2 separate regions of the Homo sapiens genome follow, and region 1 is linked to region 2. The links come from fine-mapping of genetic effects on gene expression. A gene starts in region 2. The other region holds a variant in brackets. All regions are shown on one strand. Distances are between the middles of the regions.

Region 1 (4,386 bases), 72 kb after region 2:
CCCAGGCTGGTCACGAACTCCTAAGCTCAAGCAATCCTCCTGCCTCGGCCTCCCAAAGTGTTGGGATTACAGGCATGAGCCACTGTGCCCAGTCTGGTTTGGATTTTTGTAATGGAATCTTTTAAAGCTAAAAATTTAACTGCTTTAGCGTGGACTTCAGAGATCTTTGGCATTTTTCCCAAAGGCAAGGGTTTTGTCCCATTTCTTGCGGCCAAGAACTTCCCTTTTCCCACAGTCTTACATGTCCTGTGCTAAATGTCATCTGTCTCCCTGGAAGTTACCATACGTCAAGGACCAAATGATTTATGATGTTAAATTGAGGTCTTCTACAGAGACAAAGAAGGAAGGAAAGGTGAAGAACTCTTATTATTTTCATTATTGCTGATAGTTTATGATACTGTAAGTAACAATTAGGTAAAACCTCATTTGGATGTGAGAATTTTGCTGTATTAAAAATTTCTGGTTGGGTGTGGTGTGGCTCATGCCTGTAATCCCAGCACTTTGGGAGGCCGAGGCGGGTGGATCACAAGGTCAAGAGATCAAGACCATCCTGGCCAACATGATGAAATCCCGTCTCTAGTAAAGATACAAAAATTAGCTGGGAGTGGTGGCGCTCACCTGTAGTCCCAGCTACTCGGGAGGCTGAGGCAGGAGAATTGCTTGAACCGGGAGGCAGGGGTTGCTGTGAGCTGAGATCGCGCCACTGCCCTCCAGCCTGGTGACAAAGCGAGAATCCATCTCAAAAAAAAAATTCTGAGCACAAGGGTCTTGGACTTTAGTTTTGTGAATATTAAGTGGCCTGGAGGTTTTCTCTAAGGAACCCAACCTAGTACTTATGAATGAATTGAAAAGACCCTCCTTTAGAAAGGAGCTGAACTGTTTTTTTTTTTTTTTTTTTGAGATGGAGTTTCACTCTTGTCACTATCTCCGCTCACTGCAACCTCCGCCTCCTGGGTTCAAGCGATTTTCCAGCCTCAGCCTCCCAAGTAGCTGGGATTACAGGTGCCCGCCACCACGCCCAGCTAATTTTTGTATTTTTTGTAGAGATGGGGTTTCAGCTTATTGGCCAGGCTGCTCTTGAACTCCTGACCTCAGGTGATCAGCCCGCCTCGGCCTCTCAAAGTGCTGGGATTACAGGCGTGAGCCACCATGCCTGGCCAGGAGCTAAACTGTTTTAAAGAGGTAAAAGTTAAGACTCATTGTGAGTATATTTTAGTTTCATTTTCTGACTTTTATGCCTTTATTGTCTTGGAAAAGACATAGTAATTTTGGAGTACTTAAACTTTATTTTCTAAATATTAAGCCCCATTTTACGGCAGTGTGGCTGGTCCATTGCAGTGCCAAGATTAGAAGTCATAGAACCTAACCCTGATTATTTGTTCAGATACAACCTCTAGTGTAATATCAGCCATTTCACTGCTTCTGTCTACCATCCTGCCTTGGTATATCAGACAATTCTCGTACTTTCTTTTTCCTAATCAATTATTTTAACATTTTCCCCCTAAGCACACCTCCATGCGAGATCTTGGTTGCTCTTCCTGACCACTAAAATAACCACTGTTTTCTATTCCTATTCTTCTAGAATAAGGGAAGATGTTCCTAGAAAAGGTAGTTTAGCCTACACTTCTCAGTGCTGGAGGGCCTGGCATCAGCCCTTTTATATCTGATTTTGAAAAGGCCCCTTAGGAACCTAACCGAGTTAGCTTCTTAAGCGTTTGGTTCACTTTTTAAAATTTTTTTAGTAAGAGACAGGGTCTTGTTCTGTTGCCCAGGCTGAAGTGCAGTGGCTTGATCCTAGCTCGCTGCAGCCTGAAACTCCTGGTCCCAAGTGGTCCTCCTTCCTCAGCCTCTATAGTGGCTGGAACTACAAGCATGTACCACCATGCCTGGCACATTTTTTTTTTTTTCTAAAGAGATGGGGGTATTGCTTTCTTGCCTAGGCTGGTCCCGAACTCTTGTGTTCAAGCAGTCTTCCAGCCTCGGCCTCCCAAAGTGCTAGGATTACAGACATGAGCCACTGTGTCCATCCAGCATTAGGTTGTTTTTTTTTTGTTTTGTTTT[T/G]TTTTTTTTTTTTGAGACAAGGTCTCACTCTGTCACCCAGACTGGAGTGCAGTGGCATGATCATGGCTTGCTGAAGCCTTGACCTCCCTGGCCCAAGGAATCCTCCTACCTCAGCCTCCCAAGAAGCTGGGACTAAAAGCGTGCACCACCACACCACCATGCCCAGTTAGATTTTTTATTTTTTATTTGTTGTAGAGACAGGGTCTCGTTCTGTTGCCCAGGCTGGTCTTAAACTCCTAGGCTCAAGTGATCCTCCAGCCTCGGCCTCCCAAAGTGCTGGGATTACAGCCATGAGCCACTGCACCTGGCTGGCATTAGGTTGTTAAACATGGACATGGAGGGTGCGAACAGGAGGCAGAGAAGCTCCAGAACTCATGGGAAACCTTATTTATTAAGGATTGCTGATCTCTTAGGTCCAAACTATAAAATGGTAAGACCGAAACAGTAGATTAGAGATGATTTTTCTCTTTAATTTATGCTTCTGAGATAAGCATTTCAGTTTTTGTTTTCTTTTTTTTTTTTTTTGAGACGGAGTCTCGCTGTGTCGCCCAGGCTGGAGTGCAGTGGCACAATCTCGGCTCACTGCAAGCTCCACCTCCCGGGTTAATGCCATTCTCTTGCCTCAGTCTCCTGAGTAGCTGGGACTACAGGCGCCTGCCACCACGCCCGGCTAATTTTTTGTATTTTTAATAGAGACAGGGTTTCACCGTGTTAGTCAGGACGGTATTGATCTCCTGACCTTGTGATCCACCCACCTCGGCCTCCCAAAGTGCTGGGATTACAGGCGTGAGCCACCGCGCCTGGCAGCATTTCATTTTTCCTTTGGGAAAGGCCGTTTCTGTAGTATGTACCAGTTTCCTCTGAAATACCAAATCCATCCACAACATACCGGCACAGTACTTGTCACTTTTTTCAGTGTAGGTAGCACAGGTAAGTTTATTGAATTATTCTGAAGCCAGAATTTATTTCTACAGTAATTTCTGGGCAGGTTCTAAAAAAGTCATCTGTGACTTTAGGACTGAAGTGTTTGGGGATGTTCATCCATTAGTTACTTGTTCATTGCTTGAACACCTAGCTAATCTTTACCTTTGCATTTGTTTTGATGTGAATCATTATTACAGATACACGTCATTATGATAATATGATGATATTCATTATATACATCATTATTACAACCAATCTTTTAAAAAATGGGCTATTTAAGGCTGGGCGCGGTGACTCACGCCTGTAATCCCAGCACTTTGGGAGGCCAAGGCAGTCGGATCACCTGAGGTCAGGAGTTCAAGACCAGCCTGGCCAACATGGCAAAACCCCGTCTCTACTAAAAATACAAAGAAATTAGCCAGGCATGGTGGTGTACGCCTGTAATTGCAGCTACTCCAGAGGTTGAGGCAGGAGAATCACTTGAACATGAGAGGTGGAGGTTGCAGTGAGCCGAGATCACGCCACTGCACTCCAGCCTGGGCGACAGAGTGAGATTGCATCTGAAAAAAAAAAAAAAAGAAAAAAAATGGGCTATTTAGATGATCTACAATGATCATATGTTTCTGTTGCCGAGGCTGGAATGTGGTGGCACAGTTATGGCTGACTGCAGCCTTGACCTCCCAGGCTCAAGCGATGCTCCCACTTCAGCCTCCTGAGTAGCTGGGACCACAGGCCCGTGTCATCACATCCAGCTAATTTTTTTTTCTCATTAATAGAGATAGGACCTCACTATGTTGCCCAGGCTGGTCTGAAATTCCTGAGCTCAAGCTATCCTTCCGCTTCAGCCTCCCAAAATGCTAAGATTATAGGCATGAACCACTGTGCCCAGCCCATATGTTTCTTTCTTTTTTTTTTTTTGAGACAGAGTGAGACTCTGTCGCCCAGGCTGGAGTGCAGTGGTGCGATCTCAGCTCACTGCAACCTCCGCCTCCTGGCTTCAAGCAATTCTGTCTCAGCCTCCCAAGTAGCTGGGACTACAGGTGCCTGCCACCATGCCCAGCTAATTTTTAAATTTTTAGTAGAGATGGGGTTTTGCCATTTTGGCCAAGCTGGTCTCAAACTCCTGACCTCAGGTCATCTGCCCACCTCGGCCTCCCAAAGTGCTAGGATTACAGGCATGAGCCACTGTGTCCCGCCACTTACGTTTCTTTTATAATGAAAAATAACACTTTCTGAAAAGTACTATGTGTTCTTTACACGTTTAAGATTATGCTATTAAATGCTGAGATCTCAGTTTTTAATATTATTGCAAATCTGGCCTTTTTATAAACTAGAAGATTTATAAGTAAAACCTAGGCCTTTTGGGATGTGATGGTGATGACCCTTTGGTAGATCTCAGGA
Region 2 (4,356 bases):
AAAGCCAAAGTCTTTTCAAGGGACTACAAGCTCTTTAACCTCTTCCTCTCCTCCTTGCCCACTCTGCTCCAGCCAAGATAGCTTTCTTACTCTTCTGACATGCCAGGCACATTCCTGCCTTAAGGCATTTCCACTGTTTCCTCTTCCTGAAATGTTCTCCCCCTAGATATCCACACATGGCTTAACCCCTATAAAATATCACCTTCTCAATAAGACCTACTCTGGGGCTGGGTGCAGTGGCTCATGCCTGTAATCCCAGCACTTTGGGAGGCCAAAGTGGGTGGATCACAAGGTCAGGAGATGGAGACCATCCTGGCTAACACGGTGAAACCTCGTCTCTACTAAAAATACAAAAAATTAGCCAGGTGTGGTGGCAGGTGCCTGCAGTCCCAGCTACTCAGGAGGCTGAGGCAGGAGAATAGCTTGAACCCAGGAGGCGGAGGTTGCAGTGAGCCAAGATCACACCACTGCACTCCAGCCTGGGCGAGAGAGCAAGACTCGATCTCCAAAAAAAAAAAAAGAAAAAATCAATTAGATTAAAAAAGCAAACAATCTGTATTAGCTTTCTGTTTGTTTTAGAGACAGGATGTTGTTCTGTTGCCCAAGCTGGAGTGCAGTAGTGTGATCATGGCTCACTGCATCCTTGAACTTCCGGCTTCAAGGGATCCTCCCCCCTCTTACCCCGAAACCCTCACCAGTAGCTGGGACTATAGGTGCTGCCACCATGCCTGGCTAATTTTTTTTTTTTTTTTTTGTCCATAGGGACTGAGTCTTACTATGTTGCCCAGGCTGGTCTTGAACTCCTGGCTTCCAGTGATCCTCCCACCTTGGCCTCCCAGTGTTGGGATTACAGGCATGAGCCACCATGCCTAGCCTGGTGATGTTTTCTTAAACTGGCTAAGTTTATGAGTATTTATTATACTTTATAATTTACATATTATATTATTTTCCAGATATCGAATATTTTATATATATATATATATCTTTTTGAGACAGGGTCTGGCTCTGTTGTGCAAGCTGGGGTGCGGTGGCACCATTGTAGCTCAATGCAGCCTACAAGTCCTGGGCTCAAATGATCCTTCCCCCTCAGCCTCCCAGGTAGTCAGGACTACAGGTGCGCACCACCATGCTTGGCTAATTCTTTAAGATTTTTTACAGAGGTGGGATCTCGCTTCTTTTTTCTTTTTTTTTTTGCCTAGGTTGGTCTTGAACTCCTGGCCTCAAATGATCCTCCCACCTCAGCCTCCCAAAGTGCTGGGATTACAGGCATGTGCCACCGCGCCCAACCCTCAAATATTGTATTGTAAAAGACAATGAAAAGCATACAAAACAAAAATGATCAGTGAGAAGCTAGGTGGCGTCAAATGCCCGGGCAAAAAGGGGTTAGGTCTGCAGCGCTATACTCAGATGTAACTTACAGATGCAACTAGCGGAAACAGCATTAAATTTGTTAACTCAATGCTTGGTGGCCAGAAATTCATGTCAGGATAATTCATTTGAGCACAGACTAAAGGGTTTGGACTTGTAGTTATAGTCCAAGTTTCTCAAACTTGCTGGGTTTTATGAATCATCTGACACTTTAGTTAATAATACAGATTTCCAGGCGACTCCCTTATAGATCCCTTTTCTGTGGGCCTAGGAAGCAGCCAATCAGTATTTCATGGGTTCGGTGCCACCTATCCCAACTTGACAATGAGAGATCGCTCTGCATGCCAGGTGAAGGACCTGACGCTGGCGGGCGGCGGGGACTACCAGGTCAGCCCCAGGAGAGCCGGCTCCGGCAAGCTCCCCCAAGGCATGGCAGGAGCCCAGTGCAAGTTAGCACAGTAAACCCAATCAACAAGCCGCAGTCACCCCTCTTCCCCAGAAATGGCCTCTTCAGCTCTTGCGGGGGAGACTCTGAAAGTCCCCAAAGGACAGAAGTCTAGGAGGAAATGATTGCCGCAGAAAGGGATACAGTCTTGGCTACTAAAAACCGCGCGGAACCGCCTAGGGACCCGCTCCCAACCACCCACCTCCGGTGCTTCTACCCCCTCCCTCGCAAACGCGAAGAAAAGAAGAAACGCGAGATCCCAGTGCAGAGGCGTGGTCCCACCCTGGCCAATGGGAAGTGAGGGCGTGACTTTAAGTCTTTCTTTCATTGGCCCAGGGTCCCAGGCCGTCCAGGTCTTGGGGCGCCGCGGCGGAAATCGCGCGGATGCCAGAACGCGCTCTCAGCTTCGGGTCCTGCGGCTGCGGCTGCCGCCATCATGGTGCGGAAGCTTAAGTTCCACGAGCAGAAGCTGCTGAAGCAGGTGGACTTCCTGAACTGGGAGGTCACCGACCACAACCTGCACGAGCTGCGCGTGCTGCGGCGTTACCGGCTGCAGCGGCGGGAGGACTACACGCGCTACAACCAGCTGAGCCGTGCCGTGCGTGAGCTGGCGCGGCGCCTGCGCGACCTGCCCGAACGCGACCAGTTCCGCGTGCGCGCTTCGGCCGCGCTGCTGGACAAGCTGTATGCTCTCGGCTTGGTGCCCACGCGCGGTTCGCTGGAGCTCTGCGACTTCGTCACGGCCTCGTCCTTCTGCCGCCGCCGCCTCCCCACCGTGCTCCTCAAGCTGCGCATGGCGCAGCACCTTCAGGCTGCCGTGGCCTTTGTGGAGCAAGGGCACGTACGCGTGGGCCCTGACGTGGTTACCGACCCCGCCTTCCTTGTCACGCGCAGCATGGAGGACTTTGTCACTTGGGTGGACTCGTCCAAGATCAAGCGGCACGTGCTAGAGTACAATGAGGAGCGCGATGACTTCGATCTGGAAGCCTAGCGGATCTCCCACTTTGCATGGCTGTCTTTTACAGATGGGAAAACTGAGGCCTGATGCTGGAGATTCTATGAGGGTGCTCTCCTCAAGGGTATCAGACGGTCGTAGGTTCTTAAGAATTTGATTCATCAGTGGCAGGCCATGCATAGAGCCACGGGAGGTGCGTCCTTGTTTTCCAGGGAATGTTCTTAGAACTTGGACTACTGATTATTAATTGACTGTGCCTTGGGAAACAGTGGGAAGTAACTTGGTGCAGCACTGGGGTATTGTTGGCTTCTTGTGTTGGAAACTTTGTAATGTAAAAGGAAAAACTGGAAATCCCCACGCCCTGTTTCCCTTTATCGTCTTGTGGTTGGACTGGTTCAATTCGTTTAACTCGAATTCTTGCTCCTGGCCGTGGTTAAGCTGTGTACAGATGATGGAGAGTTTGGCCTCAAGTTTTTATAAACTGAGCGAGACTAGTGTTCAGGATCTCCTCCCTTGTTTAAATGTCAATAAATGCCCCAACTGCTTTGTAAGTGCAACTTTTTAATCTGTCTGGTTTTCTTTTTTTCTCTAGAGACGGAGTCTTGCTCTGTCACCCAGGCTGGAGTGCAGTGGCGCGATCTCGGCTCACTGCAACCTCCGCCTCCCGGGTTCAAGCAATTTTCCTGCCTCAGCCTCCCGAGTAGCTAGGAGTATAGGCGCCCGCCACCGCGCCCGGCTAATTTTTGTGGTTTTAGTAGAGTCAGGGTTTCACCATGTTGGCCAGGCTGGTCTGGAACTCCTGAACTCGTGATCCGCCCGCCTCGGCCTCCCAAAGTGCTGGGATTACAGGCATGAGCAAACTGCGCCCAGCCTCTGGTTTTCTTACATAGAGTCATATTTATACGTCCCAGGAGCCCAGAGAAGAATAGAGTCAGCAGCGAGTGACCTGCCTGTGGATTAGATGTGCAACAGGGCCACATGTGGAGGATGCAGGATGTTGTACAGGATTGGGCAAATTTGTCACTTTACCAGTCCCTTCCTTGGAATGAGTGTTTTGGCAGAGCTCTTCCTCACATAACTTCCTGTTGATATTCCAGCCCCAGGAAATACCGTATTAGAGGGCTGGGATGTTTGCTTGCCTAAGGAAATAATCACTCTGTAGCTTGGCCATCTAGCGGTTAGAAGTGGCCCAGGAGGTTCCTGGAAATTTAGATGATAGCAGTGATAGAGAATAAGAAGGGAGACTACCAAGTTTTACTCAAGATTTCTTTATTCTTTTTTCTTTTTGTTTTTTTTTTCACACAAGGCCCAAGCTGGAGTGCAGTGGAGCTGTCACAGCTCACTGCAGCCTCGATCTCCTGGGCTCAAGCAGTCCTCCCACCTCAGCCTCCCCAGTAGCTGGGATTATAGGCATGTACCACCACCCCTGGCTAGTTTTTAATTTTTGTAGACACAGGGTTTTGGCATGTTACCTAGGCTGATCTCAAACTCCTAAGTTCAAGCAATCCTGCCTCAGCCTCCCAAAGTGCTGGGATTACAGGTGTGAGCCACCGTGCCTGGCCAAGCCTTCTAAAAGGAGAATAAATAG

Alleles and levels. Positions count from the first base shown, and alleles are read on the strand shown. Sizes are in standard deviations (SD) of each study's normalised expression.
With allele G in place of T in region 1, the expression in regulatory T cells of the gene that starts at base 2,194 in region 2 is lower (large effect, 0.85 SD a copy in Schmiedel 2018).

The links. PIP is the estimated chance that this variant, and not a neighbour inherited with it, causes the effect.
Region 1: its variant is the best candidate, but not a certain one, in a credible set for the expression of IMP3 in regulatory T cells (Schmiedel 2018, PIP 0.70).

The regions. Positions count from the first base shown.
Region 1 is chr15:75,566,196-75,570,581 of GRCh38, reverse strand. All of the region lies in intron 1 of PTPN9 (protein tyrosine phosphatase non-receptor type 9), which reads left to right. Among named protein-coding and RNA genes, the nearest start is that of PTPN9, 11 kb to the left of the region's middle. The variant T/G (reference allele first, on the strand shown) is at 2,062.
Region 2 is chr15:75,638,062-75,642,417 of GRCh38, reverse strand. It overlaps IMP3 (IMP U3 small nucleolar ribonucleoprotein 3), which reads left to right and starts at 2,194. Exons shown (of 1, transcript NM_018285.4): 1 at 2,194-3,325. The coding sequence starts at 2,250. The coding sequence ends at 2,804. RefSeq lists a silencer at 2,040-2,199 and an enhancer at 2,490-2,549.